Linked DNA regions of Homo sapiens: all the other regions are linked to region 1. Evidence: fine-mapped expression QTL. A gene starts in region 1. Each other region holds a variant in brackets. All regions are shown on one strand. Distances are between the middles of the regions.

Region 1 (7,426 bases):
AAAAAAAAATTAAAAAACACAAAAATGAATGAAGATGATGATGGCCTAGGAGTTCTAACTCTCGGGTGTACCTGTGAGGTGCTACTTTTTTTGTTTGTTTGTTTTTTGAAACAGAGTCTCACTCTGTCACCCAGACTGGAGTGCAGTGGCGAGATCTCGGCTCACTGCAGTCTCCGCCTCCTGGGTTCAGTAATTTTTCTGCCTCAGCCTCCTGAGTAGCTGGTATTACAGGCGTGCACCACCATGCCCAGCTAATTTTTGTATTTTTAGTAGAGATGAGGTTTCACCATGTTGGCCAGGCTGGTCTCAAACTCCTGAGCTCAACTGATCTGCCTGCCTCAGCCTCCCAAAGTGTTGGGATTACAGGTGTGAACCACCGTGCCCGGCCAAGGTGCTATTTTAATTCAGTAGTTTTCAACTGGGTGATTCTGCCCCCAGGGGGCACTGGGTGATGTCTGGAGACATCTGTAGTTGTCACAACTTGGGGAGGCTCCTGGCATGGAGTAGGTGGAGACCAGGGATGCTGCTCGGCACCCTGCAGTGCCCAGGATGGCCCCACCCCAGAGAATGATCCAACCCCAAATATCCACAGTACTGAGGTTGAGAAGCCCGGAAATTGTATTCTCAGAACACATCTCCCAGCTTTGGCTCAGGTGGGCACCTTGGGCCCTGTAGTTGGAGAGACCCAGGTTCAAGTCCCAGCTTTTTACCCTCTCCTGCTCCCGACACTCGCTGTGTGGCCTTAGGCAAGCCACATGCCCTCTCTGAGCTAATATCCTCATCTGGAAAATGCTGATTAAAACAGATCCTCTTGCCAGGCGCAGTGGCTAATGCCTGTAATCCCAGCACTTTGGGAGGCTGAGGTGGGTGGATCACTTGAGGTCAGGAGTTGGAGACCAGCCTGGTGAAACCAACATGGTGAAACCCCGTATCTACTAAAAATACAAAAATTAGCTGGGCATGGCGGTGAGCACTTGTAGTCCCAGCTACTCAGGAGGTTGAGGCAGGAGAATCGCTTGAACCTGGGAGGCAGAGGTTGCAGTGAACTGAGATTGTGCCACTGCACTCCAGCCTGGGTGAAACAGCAAAACTGCATCTCAAAAAATAAAAGTAGAAGAAATAAAGTGCTTACGCTGCTGTCGCTTTGGTCTCATCTTGCCAGGCACAGCCCTGTGTAGACTGGAACCTTACGTGATTAGAGTGGGGTAGCACTGCACCCATTTCACAGATGTGGAAATAGAGGCTCAGAGGGGAAGCTCCGCCTGGGATCCCCAGGCTGTCTGCCTTCCCTCAGGCCCACAGCAGCCCCCCAGATAGCAGGAACTGAAATGTCCCAGGAGGGAGCAGCCCCCCAGATAGCAGGAACTGAAATGTCGCAGGAGGGGGCACCCCCAGGGCTCCTGCCACATCAGACCCTGCCCTGCACATCCTCTCACCTTTTCCGAAGGTTGCAGCTCCTTCTCCGTCCATGGGGCCGTCTGCTCTGGGTGGGCAGCCACTGTGGGGACAGGGGCCGGTCAGGGAGAGTGAGGGATGCAGTTAGAACCATCTACCCGGCTGCCCATTGCACAATAGCCAGGCACAGCCTAAAAGGTCAGGAATGTTTCAGCTACCCCGCCAGGGACAGCAGGAGGTGACATCCACGGCTACCAGCCAGACCTGGTCACCCCCCAACCCCGCTGGGGGCTCCCCCCAAGCCCAGGGCCGCTGTTCCCTGAAGTAGGGCTCTGTGGAACTTCCTCTGCTGGGTGGACACCCACCCTGAGTCCCGGGGTTCATATAGCCTGGCATGGGGGAACAGCCCCTTGCCCAGCCCGCCCCGCCCCCACCGCAGCTGCCTGCTGCCTATTGCCAGGCCAAGGCATGTGGAGCAGAAGTCAGCTGCCTGGGGCTCTGGGCCCAGAGGGAGGCCCAGCTCAGGCGGCTGCCCCAACCCTGGGTTCCCTGTCACCGTCCCTGATCGCCCAAGCTGAGCCACAGGAGGCTGGGGAGCCCCTGGGCTGTGTGACCCCAGGGGAGCTGTTGCTCCTCCCTGGGAGTCTGGATCTCACTCTGATGAGCTCAGATGGGCAGAGCACCCAGCCTGGGCCATGGTGCATCAGAAACGGAGTGCAGGGTGGGGGAACGGCCGAGGGACTGAGTGGGGGGGCATTGCAGGGAGACAGGCTGGGTTGAAAGCCACCTTCGGCCACTCACCCCCCATATTTATGCCTCAGTTTCCCCATCCACCACAAGATGTCCTAGTGTCTGATGAGAGCACACAGACAAATATGGAGGACTCCCCAAATGGCTGGAAGTCCCTGCCCGGGGAGCTCCTTCTCCCAGGTCCATGTGTAGAGTCCCCCCACGCCCCCAGCTGGGCCAGCCACTCACCCTGAGCCTGTGGTTGGGCAGCCTCGGCAGCAGGCGCTCCTGTGGGGTCAGCGGCCGGCCGGGCTCTCGCCGAGCTATGTGCGTTGGCCACCAGGTTCCGGGCAGAGCTGAAGCCAGGCAGGGACCCAAAGAAGCTGCCCAGGGTCTGCATGGGGGCGGGGGGTGTGCAGGATGAGCAGGCCAAGCCTCGGCAGGAACGGGTCAGAGGAAGCATCGATTGATCAGCCCAATGCCGCCCCGGCCCCTTGCTCCTGGGTGACCTCAGGAAAGTGTTTCAGCCACTCAGCCTCAATTTCCACACCTGGGCAATGGGCAGACTCAGCCTGCCTCCCATGCACAGAGGAAAAGATCGTCTACCCGATCTCCAAAGACCTTTTCCTTCCAGGATCCCCACTGCACAGATGGGGAAACTGAGGCTCAGAGAGGGGCGGAGCTGAGGCCGGCCCAAGGTCACTTGCTGGGGAAGGTGTCGAGGTCTGCGTGGGTCCCCCGCCTCCAGCTTGGGTCAGAAAGGAAGGGATTGGCATCATGGCTCCCAGACCGCCCCCACCAGCCCACCAGGGAAGCACCTCTCCAGATTCGAGACCCCAGGACTGTGGAGGTCACCTTCCCCGGCTCTGGGGCATCTCCAGGCCCCAGCAAGAATCTGCCCCATTTCCCCTCTTTACCTTGCCCTTCGGTTTGGGGGGATCCCGTCTCCCTTCGTCTGGAGCAGACATAGTGAGAACGTGAGAAGCTGGAAGGGGGCAGAGAAGGTGCGTGAATGGGGGTTCCCTAGCCTCCCATCCCACACCCACTCCCCACTGAAAGCCTGAGCAGCCCGACACCCACCTGCAGGCCTGGCCTCACCCTGGTGTCACCGAAGCAGACGCGGCCCCGCTCACCTGGACTGCGCGGGGTCCCCTGGAGGACGGACCGGCCCGGCTGGCAGCTGGCTCTACCCTCAGCTCCCTGGCCTTATAGGGTCCGGGGCAGGCGCAGGCCCAGCCAGCAGCGGCAGGCGGCCAATGGGCCCGGGGGAGGTGGCCTGGACGGTCACATGGCTACCTGCCCAGCCCAGCATGGGCCCAGGCCCAGCACCTTTCCCCTGTTTCCTGCCCACAGCTTGCATCAGGCTGAGTGGCTCACAGGCCAGATGGGCTCCCCTCCCGGGCCCCTGAGCCTCCAGTTCCATCCACGAGGTGGGTGTAGTTCAAATCTCTGCTGCACCAGGATGCCTTGGCCAGTTACCATCTTTTTGCTTCAGGTTTCTCTCTCGTACTCCGCACCACGTCCCGTAACATCCAGCTTCTTCTCTGCTCTCATCTCCCCCAGCTTCCTCCTTCGCTTGCTTCATCCCAGCCACACAGGCCTCCTCGCTATGCCTCCAGCGCACCTGGCACGGTCCTGCCTTAGGGCCTCTGCACGGGCTGTGCCCTCTGCCTGGAACACCTTCCCTGCAGGTTCCCACAGGGCACCCTCTTCCGCCCACAGAACAGTGCCTGGCATACATTTGGCGCTTAATACACGTTTGGCTCAATGGAGCAACACAGAGAGTGGTTGTGAGCCTCTGTGAGATGAGGTCATGCACTGAACAAATGCTGCCTTCGCGTTACCCAGGCAGAAGCGGGGTCTCGGGGTCTCGGCAAGGAGCAGGGGGTGTCCTCAGTGTGGAGGGGAGCCCATCACTCTCCGGAAGGGACTTGGGCCAAAACGCAGACCAAGATGGAGCACCAGCCAAGCTGGGGGCACCCTAGGAGTGGAAACCCAGCCTGGGGGGCTTGGGCCAACCCAGGGAGGCTCCCTGGAGGAGGCGTCCTGTTCCAGAAGTGGTGAGGATGGGATTCAAACCCAGACCCTCCTGTTCCAGGAAGTGGTGAGGACGGGATTCAAACCCAGACCCAGGACCTTCGTGCTGAGCCCAGCCTATGTGCTGGGCTGTCTGTGGGTGGGTGGGCAGAGGAATGGCCGTAACGCCCACCCTGGGCTGTGTCCCCCTCCTACCTGCCCCTGAGACAGGGTTCCTAGCCCTGTGTTATTGGGGGTGAGAGGGCAGACCCCATGGGTGGCTCTGGGCACTGGGCTGGGAGGAGGGAGGGTACAGCCACAGGATCTGATGATTCCCAGGCCGTCTGTCTCCTTGGAGCCGACACTGTGTTTGCCAAACAGTGGGGGAACAGAAGGGGGGGTGTCCCCCAACCTCTTCTACCAGCCAGTGCTTCCCAAGGGTGGCTGGGAGAGCTCTGGGTGCCCCTCCCCTTCCCAAAGGGCAGCCACAGCCCAGTGTGTGGAGAGAAAAAATTAAAAAGTGATCATAAACATCCCAGCCAGGATCTACCCCTCCTCTGCCCAGCACCCTCCATGGCTCCCACCTTCTCCGGGGTGGGAGCCCAGGGTCAAAGCCCAAGTCCCCTTCCTGCAGCCCGGTAGGCCCTGCATAACCTGCCTCGTCTGCTCCCCACCTTCCTCTCCTTCTTCTCTTCACTCTGCTCCAGCCACACGGGCCTTTTCACTGTTCCCATAACATGCCAGGACAGAGTCCCTCAAAGACACACGTGACTGTGCCTGCTTAGCCCCGCACACCCTTCCTCAGGGCTTTCGTGTGGGTTGTTGCTTTTGCCTCCAGCACCCTTTCCCACATCCCTCACCTCCTTCCAGGTCTTTCCTCAAATATCACTTCCTCAAAGAGGCATTCCTGGATCTCCTCTCCCTTTAAAAAATATATACCTCAGGCCAGGTGCCATGGCTCACCCTGTAACCCCAGCATTTAGGGAGACCGAGGCAGGAGGATTGGCTTGAGCACAGGAGTTTGAGACCAGCCTGGGCGACAGAGCGCCACCCCGCCTCAAAAGAACAAAAGAAAAAAAAAAAAAAATAAATAAAAAAAATATATTTTATATATATATATTTCTGTTGAGGCGGGGTCGCGCTCTGTCGCCCAGGCTGGAGTACAGTGGTGCGATCTCGGCTCACTGCAAGCTCTGCCTCCCGGGTTCATGCCATTCTCCTGCCTCAGCCTCCCGAGTAGCTGGGACTACAGGCACTCGCCACCACACCCAGCTAATTTTTTGTATTTTTAGTAGAGACAGGGTTTCACTGTGCTAGGCAGGATGGTCTCGATCTCCTGACCTCGTGATCCACCTGCCTCGGCCTCCCAAAGCGCTGGGGTTACAGGCATGAGCCACTGTGCCCGGCTGCCCAAAATATATCTTTAAATAAAAATTAAATGAATTAATGGGCCAGGCGCGGTGACTCATGCCTGTAATCCCAGCATCTTGGGAGGCCGAGGCAGGTGGATCACCTGAGGTCAGGGTTCGAGACCAGCCTGGCCAACATGGCAAAACCCTATCTCTACTAAAAATACAAAAATCAGCTGTGTGTGGTGGCGCACGCCTGTAATCCCAGCTACTCGGGAGGCTGAGGCAGGAGAATCACTTGAACCTGGGAGGTGGAGGTTGCAGTGAGCCAAGATCGCGCCACTGCACTCCAGCCTGGGTGACAGAGTGAGACTCCTTCCCCACCCCCCCAAAGAAAAGAAAAGAAAAGAAAAATCCCAGGGCTTAGCTCAACCCATTCTCTTTTCCTCACCTCTGCTGCAGTGAAACTGATTTCCCTACTGCTGTGCCTTTCCCTAAGCTGTTCCCTCTGCCAAAATGCCTACCCCTATGTGCTGTTCTGATCATCCTCAACAGGCCTGGCCCTGCCAGGAGCCCCCAGCCTCATGTGGGAAGAGAGAGCAAGGCTGCCTGTGGCTATAAAGTCAAGGTGGAAAGGGCAAGAAACCTTGAGAAGGTGGCCTGTGGAGGACCGGAGGAGGGAAGTATCCGGCTGGGATGGAGTCCTGGAAGCCTTCCTGGAGGAGGAGGCATTGAGGCTGGGCCTTGAGGATGTATGAGATGTGTCCGAGGGACGGATGGGGGGTGGGAAGAGTATTCCAAGGTGGCCGCACAGCCTCAGCAAAGGCCCGGAGGTGGGAATGTGCCCACTTCAATGGTAAGAGAGCAAAGTATCCAGGTCAGGCTGGAGGAGGAAGCTGGAAGGTGAAGAGTTTGGTCTGTGGGCAGTGGGGACCTGTGGGAGATTCCAGAACAGGAGCAGGGAGGTAGATTTGGCTGGTGGAAGTGGTCGGAGATCCCAGAGCTGCCCTCTGGACTATGTCCCAGGGAAGTCAGGGGCCACCCTGACCTCACCATACCAAGCTGTGGTTTCCCAACACCCCGCCCAGCCCCAGGGGAGTCGGAAGAGCAGCCAGGAATGCGGTCAGAGGACAGGAGGAAACCCCCGAGACCAGCCTATGGCCCTTGCCCTGCCTCTGTCTTCCCATCCTGGCCAGTGCAGCTGGAGAGACCACAGCAAGACCAGCTCCTGCAGGACCAGGAGGTAGAGAGAGAGCTGCCCCATCTGACTCCTTCCCCATCTTTTCTGCTCCCTGCAATTCCATGAAATTCACCTGTACCAAGATGAGAACAGCTTCCATGCGGCCAAAGGGGCAATGCTGTTGTTTATTTTTAGAGACAGGGTCTCACTCTGTTGCCCAGGCTGGAGTGGAGTGGTTACTGATCCAAGCTCACTGCAACCTCAACTTCCTAGGCTCAAGCGATCCTGCTGCCTCAGCCTCCCGAGTAGCTGGGGCACAGGCTCGTACCATGTGTCATTTTAAAATTTTTCGTAGAGACAAGGTCTCCTATGTTGCCCAGGCTGGTGTCAAAACTCCCGGGCTCATGAAATCCTCCCACCTCAGCCTCCCAAAGTGCTGGGATTACCGATATGAGCCATGGTGCCCGGCTAATTTTAAGTGGTAATGCTTACCCCACATGGGCTGGGCAGTAACGGTGGATCCCAGACAGGATGACAGGCAGGTCAGAGAAGCACCATTCTTCTAGATCTTGAACTCTGGCTCTACACACCCCCTTCTCCATGTCTCAGCAGTGACACACCTCCGTGGCCCCCAGCCCCCTGGGACTGAGACTCACCCTGGCTGGAACACACACGTGGGCCTTTCAACAACAAAAAGGACCTTTATTCTGGAGGCAAATCCCAAACAGCAAAGCAAGCGAGTATGGCAGGCTGAGCA
Region 2 (7,426 bases), 28 kb after region 1:
CCCCTTGCACACGAACACGGCACGCACACGCACGCACACCCACACACGCCAGGGGCCTGGGTTGGGGAGGGACCTTTCCAGGGGTGGGGGAGGGCTTAGGTCTGCAGCTGTGGCCCCCCATTCCCCACCGGCGTCCAAGCCTCCCCTGCCTGCCGCCACCCCGAGAACGGAGTTGTGCAATTGGTTAGAAAACCGCAAAAGAAACCAAAACTGCAAAAAAAACCAAAACCTACGCGCATAAGGTCAACCTCAAATCCATAGCAAAGTCCTCCCGCCCACCCACCCCCAAACCGTCTCAGCGTCCTGCGGCCCCGGGTAGGGGGAGGGCGAGCTGGTTGTGCTTCCTTGTGGCGGAGGGGGCCCCCCACTCCGCGGGTGGGTCGCGGGGGGGACTTGAGCACCCACTCGGAGTTGCCCCGGGCCCCGGCGTTCTGGCACCGTCTCTCGCTCCTGGTTCCCGTGGCTGGCACTGCCAAGGCATCGGGGGGCCCCCGGCCTAGGGCACGGGGGGCGCAGTCCTGTCCGCCCCCCCATAGGGGAGGAGGTGGGCCAAGTCTGTGCCCGGCCGGGCGTGGCAGCCGCGGTGGCGGTCCCCAGGCCGGGCCTCGCCGCTGTTGAACGTGTGGGTGCGGCGCAGGGTGGCGGCCGGAGGGGCGTGGGGGCCCAGTGGCCTCCTCAGGCTGCCCGTCGGGGGCGGGCTCCAGGGCCGCGGGAGGCCATCGGCGGCTGAGGCTGGGTCCAAGGGGCCCGTGGGCGCGGACACCACCCGCCGGCGGTCCGGGCTGGCGTGGGGGGTGAGCGGGAAGTCGCCGTGGGAGGCGCGGCCGGGCCGGGCAGCATAGAGGCGGCCGTCGGGGGTCGGCTCCCCAGGCGCGGGGGGCTGCTCGGGGGCCCGGGCGGGCGCCAGCAGCAGGAGGGAGGATGAAGCGGAGGCCGGGAGCAGGGGGTGGCCGTGGTCCCAGGCGCGGGGGCCCAGGGCGTGGGGGTGCGGGTGCGGAGTGGGCAGGCGCTTCTGCGGCAGCGGCGTCTGCTCGGGCGTGGGCAGCAGCCCCGAGTCCAGGTCGTGGGGCCCGCCCTGCAGCAGCGTGGCCTTGGCCCAGCCGTTCTGCATCAGGGGCGCCAGCAGGGCCTCCGGGGGAACCCCGGCGCCACCGCCACCGCCTCCGCCCCGGCCCCCGGGACCCTGCGCCCTGCGCTCGCCCAGGCGGCTGACGCTCAGCACCGCCTCGCCCGCCCCGTGCGCCAGGATGGCCTCCTTGTCCTTGCGCCGGGCCAGCTCCCGCCGCTCACGGAGGCCCACGAACCAGCCCACGCTGAAGCCGGACACCACGGCTCCCACCACGAAGGCCGCCACCGACGACGTTACCAGCAGGTTCACCGACACCAGCCCCGCGCGGTCCTCGGAGAGGCTGGCCCGCAGGAGTCCTGGCCGGGGAGCACAGGGGGGTTAGTGGGGCCGGCGGGGTGGCCCTGGGCATCCCTCCTACCTCCTCGGGGCCCTCTGTCCTCTTTTTTATTATTTTTATTTTTTTTTATTTATTTATTTTTTGAGAAGGAGTCTTCCTTTGTGTGCCAGGCTGGAGTGCAGTGGGGCGATCTCGATTCACTGCAACCTCCGCCTCCCATGTTCAAGTGATTCTCCTGCCTCAGCCTCCCGAGTAGCTGGGACCACAGGTGCCCACCACCACGCCCGGCTAATTTTTGTATTTTTAGTAGGATGGGGTTTCACCACGTTGGCCAGGCTGGTCTGAACTCCTGACCTTGTGATCCGCCCACCTCTGCCTCCCAAAGTGCTGGGATTACAGGCATAAGCCACCACGACTGGCCTTATTTTTATTATTTTTTAATTTTTTTTGTTTGTTTGTTTTGAGACAGTCCCCCAGGCTAGAGTGCAGTGGTAAAGCTCACTGCAACCCTGCCTCCAGCTACCTGTTTGTTTTATTAAAGACAGGATCTGGGCCAGGCATGATGGCTCACACCCATAATCCTAGCATTTTGTGAGGCTGAGGCAGGAGATCACCTGAGGTCAGAAGTTTGAGACCAGCCTGGCCAACAAGTGAAACCCATCTCTACTAAAAATACAAATTTTAGCCGGACATGGTGGTGTGCGCCTGTAATCTCAGCTACTTGGGAGGCTGAGGCAGGAGAATCAATTGAACCCGGGAGGTGGAGGTTGCAGTGAGCTGAGATCACACTACTGCACTCCAGCCTGGGTGACAGAGCAAGACTCTGTCTCAAAAAAAAAAAAAAAAGACATGTTCTCACTCTGTTGCCCAAGCTGGAGTACAGTGGCCTGATCACAGCTCATTGCAGCCTCCACCTCCCTGGGCTCAAGCGATCCTCCCGCCTCAGCCTCCCAAGTAGCTGGAACTACAGGCATGCACTGCCACGTCTGGATTATTTTTGGGTTTTTGTTTTAGAGACAGGGTTTCACTATATTCCCCAGGCTGGTCTCAAACTCCTGACCTCAAGTGATCGTCCTGTCTTGGCCTCTCAAAATGCTGGGATTATAGGCAGGAGCTGCCGCGCCTGGCCCCTTCTGTCCTGTTGAAGTTGGTCTGTCTGCCTTCTGTTGTCTCTTCGTCCTTGCCAAAGCCTGCCTGTTTCTTGGTGTCTCTGTTCTTCCCCTATCTCCCTCCCCAATAAATGAGATGAGACCACCCCATGCCTTTCTTTTCTTTTTTTGAGACGGAGTCTTGCTCTGTCGTCCAGGCTGGAGTGCAGTGGCGTGATCTTGGCTCACTGCAGGCTCTGCCTCCCGGATTCACGCCATTCTCCTGCCTCAGCCTCCCGAGTAGCTGGGACTACAGGCGCCCGCCACCACGCCCGGCTAATTTTTTGTATTTTTAGTAGAGACGGGGTTTCACCGTGTTAGCCAGGATGGTCTAGATCTCCTGACCTCGTGATCCACCCACCTTGGCCTCCCAAAGTGCTGGGATTACAGGCGTGAGCCACCGCGCCCGGCCCACCCCATGCCTTTCTAAAGTTCTCTGATGGAGTCCAGTTTCCCCACCCACCTCCCAGAGGATTCGAGGGTCCTCCAGCCTCCTCCCTCCCCTCCCCCATGGTAGTGGGGGATGGGGGTCTTAGCCTGCCGTCCCCCCAACTCACCTGTGCAGTCCCCTAAGCCTGAGGTGCTGGCCCCGGACACGTCCTGCTCAAAGGCGGCTCTAATGGGGAGAGGAGGCACCGTCAGCAGAGGCCCCTCTCACAGTCAGAGATCAGGGGGATCTGGGATCATGGGCGGGTCTGACACACCCTCCACCCACCTCCCTCTCCCGCAGTACCTGGTGCCCGGGCTGAGGAAGATGCAGGAGCCGTCGGGGGCCCACCCGCAGTAGGGGTCCTGACTGCCGATACAGTTCCTAGAGCAGACCAGGGACCGAATGGGACAAGTGTCCAAGTCACTTACACAACCCCAATGGTGATGGTGACCTGTGGGCCCTGTTCCAAGCACCTGCCTCTTTATTTTTATTTTAATTAATTAATTTTTGAGACGGAATTTCGCTCTTGTTGTTTATTTATTTAGTTATTTTTGAGATGGAATTTC[G/A]CTCTTGTCGCCCAGGCTGGAGTGCAGTGGCGGGATTTTGGTTCACTGCAACCTCCGCCTCCCGGGTTCAAGCGATTCTCCTGCCTCAGCCCCCCGAGTAGCTGGGATTACAGGCACGCGCCACCATACTTAGCTAATTTTTGCATTTTTATCAGAGACAGGGTTTCACCAGGTTGGTCTTGAACTCCTGACCTCAAGTGATCCACCCGCCTCGGACTCCCAAAGTGGTGGGATTACAGGTGTGAGCCACCACGGCTGGCGTTTTCTTATTTTAAAATTAAAAAAATTTTTTTAAATTAAAATTTAATTTTTTTTTTCTTTAAGAGACAGGGTCATGCTCTGTCACCCAGGCTGGAGTACAGTGTCATGATCATAGTTCACTGCAGCCTCAACCTCCCAGGCTCAAGTGATCCTCCTGCCTCAGCTTTCTGGGTAGCTGGGACCACAGGTGTGTGCCACCACGCCCAGCTGATTTTTGCATTTTTTTTTTTTTTAGAGACAGGCTCTCACTATGCTGTGTTGCCCAGGCTGGTCTCGAACTCCTCGGCTCAAGGAGTCCTCCTGCCTTGGCCTCCCAAGTGCTGGGATGACAGACGTGAGCTACCAAGCCCAGTCCCTCTTCTTAATAGCAACTTCTGGAGTCCTTAGAACAAATCTGTGTGCAGGGCACTGTTCACTCCCCACTTTACAGATAAGCAAACTGACGCTCCAGAAAGTAAATGTTTGCCCAAGTGGCAGAGCTGAGATGGGAGCCCAGGCATCGTGCCAGAGGCTGTGCCCTTGGACTCGGAGCTACTGGGTCATTGTTGCAATAACGGCGGGCAGGAAGCAGGGTCCTCCGCATTGACGGCTCACATGGAGTGCAGGCGTGTGCCAGCACTGGCATGCATCCTAGCTTTCCTCCCATTTTAGAGACGGGGAAACAGCCTCCACCCTGGTCCCTGGTTCTCCTTCCCCTGCAGTCTCCTCCTGGCAGCAGCCACCAGAGGGCACCTGTAAGCACCTGAGTCAGGGCCAGTCCCTCCTCTGCCTGCAACCCTACATGGCTCCCATCTCCTTCAAGGTCAAAGCCCAAGTCCTCCCCGAGGCTCACAAAGCTCTGCACAAACTGCCTCGTCCTCTCCCATCCCCTCCCCGTCCTCCCCTCCTCCCTCACTCCCCCTTGCTCACTGTGCTCCAGCCACACCGGCCACCTTGCTGTTCTTCCAACACACCAGGAGTGGTCCTGCCCGCGGGCCTTTGCACGGGCCATGCCCTCTGCCCAGCTCAATGACCAGGACATCATTGGGCTTTTGACTGGAACCCAGCTGTCCCTCCCTGTGCCCATCCTCCCTTGCTTCCCGCCCACGGCTGGCCTGGGGTGGACACTCACTTCATACACCCCGAGTACTGCTGGCAGCGAGCCACAGGCACTCGGACCACGCAGCGGGGGAAGGCAGCCAGCAGGCCCCCCGAAGCTGCGTCCAGCTCCAAGCTCAGCAGCCGCTGCCCTGTCTCGCCACCGCCGGGCCGTCCACACCTGGGGACAAGCAGAGTGGTGAGGCTGAGCGCATCTCAGCCCATCTCCCCTCCTGCTGGCGACCCCTTCCCACCTTTGCCCAGACTTACCTGTCCGGCCGGTAGGTCTCAAACTCCTCCAGGAAGACACTGAGCCCAGACGTCCCTGAGGTGCTGGCATTGGGCCGGACGAGGAACTTGAGGACCGTCCCCGCCTCAGAACCCAGGAAGACAACGGTCTGGTTGCCCCAGGGGCCGGCTCCCACGTCCACAGCCACTCGAGTCAGCTGGTGCCTGGGGGACAGGGCAGGGGAGGGTCAGGCTGGCCCCATATCACCACATGCCACCAACACGGGCATGGCCATAGTTACACGGGTGCATACAGACACTGACACACCAACACATGTGACAGCAATAAATGCGTGTGTGCATGGATGCCGGGGACATGCGTGACTACACAGGCACGTGGGCACACTCGCCCTTTTTTGAAACATAACCCCAAACCAGGCTCTCCTCAGCCCTGTCTCTTTGGTTGAGATGGAGTCTCACTCTGTCACCCAGGCTGGAGTGCAGTGGCGCAATCTCAGCTCATTGCAACCTCCGCCTCCCGGGTTCAAGCAATTCTCTTGCCTCAGCCTCCTGAGTAGCAGGGACTACAGGCACACGCCATCACGCCTGGCAAGTTTATGTTTTGTTTTTTTTGAGACAGAGTCTCACTCTGTTGCCCAGGCTGCAGTGTAGTGGCTCGATCTCGCCTCCTGGGTTCAAGCGATTCTCCTGCCTCAGCCTCCCAAGTAGCTGGGACTACAGGCGCACACCACCACACCGAGCTGATTTTCTTTTTTTTGTATTTTTAGTAGAGACAGGGTTTCACCATTTGGCCAGGCTGGTTTCAAACTCCTGACCTCAAGTGATCCTCCCGTCTTAGCCTCTCAAAGTGCTGGGATTACAGGCATGAGCCACTGTGCCCAGCCCCGCTTTCTCCTGATATGTATGTGTGTCTGTGTATCTTTCAGTCTCTTTCTCTCTTTGTCTCTCTTCCCTATCTCTGTCTCTCTGGGTGTCTGTCTGTCTCTGATTGTCTCTCTCCCTGTCTCTCTGTCTCTTTCCCCCTTTGTTCTCCTGGTGTGTGTCTGTCTGTCTACCTCTTTTTTTTTTTTTTTTTTTTTGAGGTGTAGTCTCCCTCTGGCCCCAGGTTGGAGTGCAGTGGCGTGATCTCGGCTCACTGCAACCTCCGCCTCCCGGGTTCAAGTGATTCTCCTGCCTCAGCCTCCCGAGTAGCTGGGACTACAGGCGCCCACCACCACGCCTGGCTAATTTTTGTATTTTATTTTATTTTATTTTTGAGACGGAGTTTCGCTCTTTCGCCCAGGCGGGACTGCAGTGGCGTGATCTTGGCTCACTGCAAGCTCCGCCTCCCGGGTTCATGCCATTCTCCTGCCTCAGCCTCCTGAGTAGCTGGGACTACAGGCGCCTGCCACCACGCCCAGCTAATTTTTTGTATTTTTAGTAGAGACGGGGTTTCACTGTGTTAACCAAGATGGTCTCCATCTCCTGGCCTCGTGATCCGCCTGCCTCGGCCTCCCAAAGTGCTGGGATTACAGGCGTGAGCCACCATGCCCGGCCAATTTTTGTATTTTAAGTAGAGACGAGGTTTCTCCATGTTGGCCAGGGTGGTCTCGAATTCCTGGCCTTAGGTGATCTGGCAGCCTCGGCCTCCCAAAGTGCTGGGATTACAAGCATGAGCCACCGTGCCCAGCCCCATCTGTCACCTCTTGATCCCTCTGTCTCTCTCTTTGTTCTCTCTTTCCTAGTGTCTCTCCATCTTTCCCTCTCTGTCTCTCTGTGTCTCCAGCTCTCTGGGCAGCGCCGGAAGCCATGGGCTCATCTGTGTTGAGCATCTGGATCCTCTCACCCTCCATCTACCCCATCCTGTCTCCCCTCGCCATGCCCTGCCTCTCCAGGACCGACCTCATCAGGGTCCGCAGGATCCAGGGCGCATGGCCCAGCGAGGGCACCGCCTCGTCCATCAGAGGGTGGGTCTTGACAAAGTTGAGGATGTCATCCGGCAAGGCGCTGGAGGCATTGTACTGCATCCCGGGGGCTGCGCAGCACCCGGGCCTGGGGGTGACAAGGGTGTGGTCAGGACGAACGTAAAGGTTCTCATAAAGGGGCCTGATTCACCAGAGGTACCCATTGCTTTGCCCAACGACCCTCAGGTTTTTTGTTTGTTTTGTTTTTGAGACAGAGTCTCAATCTGTCGCCCAGGCTGGAGTGCTTTGGCTCACTGCAACCTCCACCTCCTGGGTTCAAGCGATTCTCCTGCTTCAGCCACCCGAGTGGCTGGGATTACAGGCACGTGCCATCACGCCCGGCTAA
Region 3 (6,372 bases), 160 kb before region 1:
AGGGTTCCCCTGACCTCGTGAGGCTCCAGGAACCCTGGAGCCAGGAGCACACCTACCTCGACAAGCTTAAGGTGAGCCCCAAGTCCCCGCAGACCTCCTAACGGGGCCCCAGGAGAGGCCCCCTGGGCAGCCTAAAAGGTGGCAGCAATGAGCCCCGTGGGCCTCAGGGGCCTGAGACAGCCCAGCTGGCAGACTGGTGACCCTGGTCACCCCGTGGCCACCCCAGCAGGGTGCAGGCCAGATTTGATTGGACTGTGGAGCTTTAAGCTCCGGCAGTGCCGGATGAGGTCCTGGCAGCGGGTTTTGGGAGTGGCTCCCCTGCAGAGGGCCCAGGGTCCTGGCCACCCCTGAGTGTCTTAGGGTAGTGGTTCCTGGTTTCCCTCCACCTGGCATAGAAAGGGACTCATTCTGCTCAGCTCTCGGCTAGCTGTGGAGGCTGTGGTGTCCCCATGGGTGTCTGGAACCAGGCAGGGAGGGGCTGAAGTGGGGGCAGGATCGGGAGTGTGCACATAAGCCCCACCCCTCCACACAGCACCGCTGCCCCTGGGAGCCAGGCCCTCGGTTACATACTGCCCCACTGGGTAAGCAGCAGGCTGTGCTGCGGGACCCCAGCCCTGTGCCTCGGTCTCAGGGGGGCTCAGTCAGGATGCTGGACTTGCACGGTGGACTGTGAGGCGCAGGGCTGGCTAGGACCCCCGGGCACAGCCTGAGGCCCAGCCCCCTCGTTTCAGATCTCCTTGGCCAGCAGGACGCCCAAGGACCAGAGCCTGTGTCACGTCCTGGAACAGGTGTGCGGCGTCCTCAAGCAGGGGAGCTGAGCCTTCCAGGGCAGGGTGGGCTCCAGTTGTCTTGAGGGTCCGGATGGGCTCAGGTAATAAAGAAACGGAAGCAGCAGCCAGCCACGCTGGTCTCCCCAAGGCTGGGGTGAGGGTGGCTGGGTGCCCAGGCTGGTACCATCACCCCAGCTTCCTCACTTCCAGGGCAGGGCATTAACTTCCAGGATACCCCTCAGCCCCTGCACCTGGGAACTGGCACAAAAGCCTCAGGGCCAGTCCCACCCACCTTGGGCTCAGGAGCACCTGGGGTGCTGGAGGGACCTCCTGGGGTGTGTGTGGCTTTGGAGCCGGCCCCTCAGGAAGGCGGTGGGTGGCAGGCCCACCCCTGCACCAAGACGAGGCAAGGGGCTGTAGAAAGAGACATTTAATACTTCTGTTTACAAAATTCAGGCGTACATTTCAGTTTGCCCTGGACCGTGCCCAAAGCTGTGTGCTCATCTCTGCGCCCCTCATGTACTTCTGACGAGGGGGGTGCAGGGCAGGGCAGAGCAGAGCCTGGGGTCCGGAGGCTTCACTGGACCACAGGGGGAGGGGAATGTGAATGTGGCCTGGCCCAGAGAACTCCCCATTTCATCGATTTTGCATTGGGCGATAGAGGAAGCAGATGTCGGGGCTGCCTGCCTTGGTCTAGAGGAGATGGCTGGGGCCACTTCCCACAGGGTGAAGTGGCAGCGGCTCAGCAAGGGGAGCCTGGCCACCAGGGGCTGGGACATGCGCTCACTGGAACCTTTGTGCTTGGCCCTCGGCAGCGCGGCTGTGGTCCCGTGTGAGGTGTGCTGGGGTGGGTGTGGGTGGCTGGTGGTGGCAGCTTGTGCCAGAGTGACACAGGCCTCCCTGGGTTGGGATGGGGGCAGTTAAAAAGCTGAAAAGGTACTTGGCTTTCTGAGGGCGGGGCTTGGGAGGCAGGGCCCTGCAGGAGACCATGTTCTCTGTCCTCAGGCAGATCCCAGCTGGCCTCTGTCCCCGGGCTGCAAGCTGACAGCAGGCCCGGGAGGCGGTGAGGCCCTCTGCCCTGGCCTTGAGGAGAAGGAGTGCGTGTGTGAGGCGGGGGTGCATTGGCCCTGGAGTAGGGCCAGGGCCCATCACCAGCACCAGGCTGGGAGGGATTTAAAACCAGGGTCCTATCTCTGAGCCACCCCATGGGGACCCTCGATCCCATCCTGTTAAGGCTGCGGGACTCGAGGGTAGGCAGTGGGCCGGGCCCCCGTCGGGTCAGGACGGAGGTGGGGGCTGCCCCAGAGGAACATTAGTGTTTCTAAGAGCACCTTAGTGTTGCCCCGCCTCGGCCAGCTGGGCGAGAAGTTGGGGAGCGGGGGAGGAGGCTGGCGCCATGGAGTGGGGAAGGGAGCCGTCACCGTTGGGAGTCAGCGCTAGTGTAAACAGGCATCCCCACCCACCCAGATAAGCCCCCCCACCCAAGTGTGGGGTCCTGCTCAGGGAGTACCTCAAGGGCCGGGGCCCAGGTGGCGCCGGCAGGCTCAGACACCGCCCTGGCAGCAGGGGCTCCGTGGAATGCAGGAGACCCAGCAGGGGGTGCCGGCCAGTGTGGACGGAGGGGCGGGGCGGGGACACGGGTGAGTCACTGCGGCAGGGGCACAAGCACCTCCACGTAGCTGAGCGGGAAGAAGCCCGACTGGCCGTCCAGCATGCCCTCGTACCAGTTCTCATCGATCTGGTTGGTCAGCGTGATGACGTCGCCCTCATGGAAGCCCAGCTCCCCGTCGTTCTCGGGCTCGAAGTCGTACAGCGCCTTGCAGCTCGGCTGGTCCAGGGGCGCTGGGGGCGGGAGCGGGCTGTGGGGCTGGGGCTGCTACGCCTCACCCCGCCCAGTCTGGGGTCTCAGACCTGCTGTGACCTGGAGCGTGTGGGTGGGCATGGGCCTCCCCTCTGCCCTGCCTGGGCCACCCCCTGCCCCTGCCACTTCTGGGGTCCGGCCTCTACTGCCACCCAGGAGGGAGGATGGGAGAAGCTTGGTTTAAGTGGTCACCAAAGCTACTCCTGGGAAGTGCTGGGGACACCCGGTGCTGCTGCGGTGACAGGGAGTGACCAGATGCCCTCAAGCCCTTGTAGCCACCACACAGCCTAGAGCTAGCTGGGCTAGTGCCCTTGGCAATCCCTCATTCACACTGTGAGGCTGAGACCCAGAGGGGTGGCATCTTGCAGGCTGTGGGGCCTGTGCCCCCTACTGCTGCACGAGCCTGGCCCCTCCCTGCTTGAGATGGGCAGAGAACAGGGCGGGAGGAGAAACACCCTCCCCGAATGGCCGAGAAGGCAGCACTGAGGTCGAGGCGGGCCTGGGAACACTCACGCATGCTCCGGCTAGGGGTCCGGATGGGCTTGTCGGAAGATCGGAAAGACGATGAAGCTAAACACAAGCAAAACGAGGAGGCTGTGGGCTCAAAACGGTCGGGCAGGGCCCCTTCTGCAGAAGGCTGGGGCCAGCCCTTCCCGTCTGCCTTGGCGGTCCAGATGGAGCACGGCTGAGAGCTGCACCCAGGAGTCTGGCGCTCAGAGACCCAGGACAGGGCCAGCCCTTGGCCACTCCCACCCGCTGGCATTTGCCTCCGCAAGAGGGCTCCATGCCCCATTACCTGCGATCTTGGGGGCTGTGGTGCAGGGGAAGCCCCCGTTGGACTGCTCAGGCTCTCCAAGGTCAAAGGGCTCCCGGGGCTTGGGCTTATACTCCCGCTTAGGGCGTGAGGAAGCTTCCCGCATCCTGTGAAGGGAGAGGCGTGAGTGGACCGAGCCCGTGTCACGGCCGAGGCAGCCCCACTCTTGTATTTATGCTGCTGCCTAATGACCTGGCCTGGGACTGCAGGAAGAGGCCGTCAGTGGGGTTGTGACACATGGACCCTGGGACACAGCTAGACTGGGATGTCTACCCAGAGGGCCTCCAGCCTGGACCCCCACCTTGGAGGCATCCCAGAGATTGCCAA[G/A]CAGCTGGGGCCTGCCACAGCATCTACCTACAACACCCCCAGTCGCATCCCCTGCCTCCTCCCCCAATTCCCCACCACGGACGGCGCCCCACATACGCCAAGGCCCCTGAAGCAGGTCTGGCCTCTGCATTCAGGGAGGGGAGCCTGGGTGTTCCTGTGGCAGCAGCAACGTGCAGCCAGGGAGGGAGTCCCCGGGGCCTGCATCGGGGCAGGGCTGGGTGTTGACTCAGAGTTCTCAGAGCCCCAGCTCCTCTGACCTCGCGGCCCCCCAGGCCTTTCCACTCAGTCCCCAGGAAGAATCCAGGATGCTGCTCTGCCATGTGCTCACCCCACAGCGAGGTGTGCTGCCCACTTGCGCTGGCAGAGGGCGCATGGCAGCCCAGACTCTGGAGAGACCAAGGCCCTGGGCTCACCTGCGCTTGAGCTTCTCCGCCAGCTCGTCCAGGATCTGCACGGCCTGCCGGTGGTAGTCCAGCTGTGCATCCACCAGGGCCGAGAGCTGACTCACCTGCTCGATCTGTGGGGACAGTAGGGCTCAGGGGCTCCTGCCAGTGCCACTGTCCTGTGCCTTCCCTGACTCCCGAGGTGAAGCCACAGGAGGCAAGGGGGCTGAGAGGGGACAGGGGACTGGGGCCCATACCCTCCACCTCCCCTGCTGCAGCGGCCAGGTAGGTGCCGATCTGTCCTCCAGCTCCCTTGAGGCACCACCCCGGCCTCCCAAGGGCATAGGTCTTCTCAGGATGTGACACCCCGAGCTACTCACGTCAGTCTCCAGGAGGTTGTGCATGCTGGTTTCTGCCACCTCCTTGGACTCCTCGAACTTCTCCAGCGCCTGGCGTAGCTCCTCATCGGGGATCTTGCCCTGCCGCTTCTTCTTGTAGTCAAAGTCCAGGCGGCGGCCCTCCAGTTTCTTCAGGTGGTGCTGGAGACGTGGGGGACATGGGTCACACCAGTAGCGGCCAGAGGGCCGCCCCACGCATGGCTTTGACCCACTGTCCCTGCACCACTGGGGATCCTGCCTGCCTGAGACCCAGAGGGCAGTGCCGAGGCTGGAGGTGAGGGTGGCAGGAATGGGGCTGCCCCATCCGGCAGGGGGAAGGGACAGGCCCCAGGCTGGCGCAGGAGCAGCACCTGGATCTCCTTCAGGTCTTTCTCGCACAGGTTCTGGAGGGGGTCAATGAAGTTCTGCTTGACCTCGATGTCCAGGGAGTCCTTCACCTCTGCCAGGCGCTTCATGGACTCGCCGGCATCCAGCAATGCGTCACCTGTGGAGAAGTGGTGGGGGAAGCCATCATACCGGGCCTGGGACCACTAGACTGAGACACTCCTCAGCCTTTGTTTTTGAAATAGCGTTTCACAGGCTGGAACGCAGTGGCGCTGTACCAGCTCACTGCAGGCCTCAAACTGGGCTCAAGCCATGCTGGCACCTCAGCCTCCCAAGTAGCCGGGACCACAGGCGTTCACCCCCACACCTGGATCCTTTCCAACTTCTTTGAGATGAAGTCTCGCTGTTGCCCAGGCTGCAGTGCAGTGGCATGATCTCAGCTCACTGCAACCTCTGCCTCCCAGGTTCAAGCAATTCTCCTGTCTCAGCCTCCTGAGTAAGGGGGATTACAGGGGCCTGCCACCACATCCAGCTAATTTTTGTATTTTTAATAGAGACGGGGTTTCACCATATAGACCACACCGGTCTCGAACTCCTGACCTTGTGATCCGCCCGCCTCGGCCTCCCAAAGTGTTGGGATTACAGGCGTGAGCCACCGCACCCGGTTTTTGTTTTGTTTTGTTTTGTTTTGTTTTTTCATAGTCTCGGCTCACTGCAACCTCCACCTCCTGGGTTCAAGTGATTCTCCTGCCTCAGCCTCCCGAGTAGCTGGGGTTACAGGCATGCACTACCACACCCGGCTAATTGTGTGTGTGTGTGTGTGTGTGTGTGTGTGTGTATATATATATATATATATTTTTTTTTTTTTAGTAGAAGCGGGGTGGGGTTTCTCCATATTGGTCTTGCTGGTCTCGAATTCCCGATCTCAGGTGATCCACCTGCCTTGGCCTCCCAAAGTGTTGGGATTACAGGCATGAGCCACCACACTTGGCCCCATCCCAACTTCTAACAGCCCCCCAACACTCTAAGCCCAGGGCCCGGAAATTGGAACTCAGGGCAAAACAAAGGATCCTAAAATCCGAATCGATGCTGGACGTTAAACCAGACCCTCCAATGCTCCTAAAAGGGCCTAGGTTTGCCCTTAACAGGTGGAAGGACAGATGCTGGGGGGTCCAGGCCCTGGGGAAGCAGCTGGCTTGAGTTGGGGAAGGTCTGGAGCTACAGGAAGGGGCCCTATCAGCTGCTGGCCAGTGCTGGATGGGTTGGTCTGTGCAGTCTCCTGCACCTCTGCAGCTGGAAAGCTGTGGGGGCCACTGTACGTCCCCGGCACTCAGCACATGCAGGGCCTGGACCTGCCCTGCCTGTGTTGAGGTGTGGCCTCCAGGGACGGTGGGCGTGGCTTCCAGAGAGCACCACTCACCAAAGTTGGACTCGCCGCCCAGCTCCTTCCCGTGGCGGATCATGCACTCGCCCAGAAGCCCCTCCGACTGCGGGT

The links. PIP is the estimated chance that this variant, and not a neighbour inherited with it, causes the effect. A credible set is the group of variants that fine-mapping cannot tell apart.
Region 2: its variant is the best candidate, but not a certain one, in a credible set for the expression of PLIN4 in whole blood (TOPMed, PIP 0.56).
Region 3: its variant is the best candidate, but not a certain one, in a credible set for the expression of PLIN4 in whole blood (INTERVAL, PIP 0.79).

Annotation. Positions count from the first base shown.
Region 1 is chr19:4,515,181-4,522,606 of GRCh38, forward strand. It overlaps PLIN4 (perilipin 4), which reads right to left and starts at 3,306. Exons shown (of 8, transcript NM_001367868.2): 1 at 3,205-3,306; 2 at 3,042-3,109; 3 at 2,374-2,518; 4 at 1,437-1,498. The coding sequence starts at 3,092. PLIN5 (perilipin 5) reads right to left here. Exons shown (of 8, transcript NM_001013706.3): 8 at 7,351-7,426.
Region 2 is chr19:4,543,105-4,550,530 of GRCh38, forward strand. It overlaps SEMA6B (semaphorin 6B), which reads right to left. Exons shown (of 17, transcript NM_032108.4): 12 at 7,019-7,168; 13 at 5,159-5,341; 14 at 4,923-5,069; 15 at 3,288-3,365; 16 at 3,112-3,170; 17 at 1-1,425. The coding sequence ends at 497. Among named protein-coding and RNA genes, the nearest start is that of LRG1, 6.8 kb to the left of the region's middle. The variant G/A (reference allele first, on the strand shown) is at 3,551.
Region 3 is chr19:4,359,185-4,365,556 of GRCh38, forward strand. It overlaps SH3GL1 (SH3 domain containing GRB2 like 1, endophilin A2), which reads right to left. Exons shown (of 10, transcript NM_003025.4): 4 at 6,298-6,372; 5 at 4,904-5,037; 6 at 4,536-4,694; 7 at 4,186-4,289; 8 at 3,428-3,552; 9 at 3,145-3,201; 10 at 1,186-2,612. The coding sequence ends at 2,416. MPND (MPN domain containing) reads left to right here. Exons shown (of 13, transcript NM_001300862.2): 12 at 1-71; 13 at 732-894. The coding sequence ends at 818. Among named protein-coding and RNA genes, the nearest start is that of MPND, 19 kb to the left of the region's middle. The variant G/A (reference allele first, on the strand shown) is at 3,773.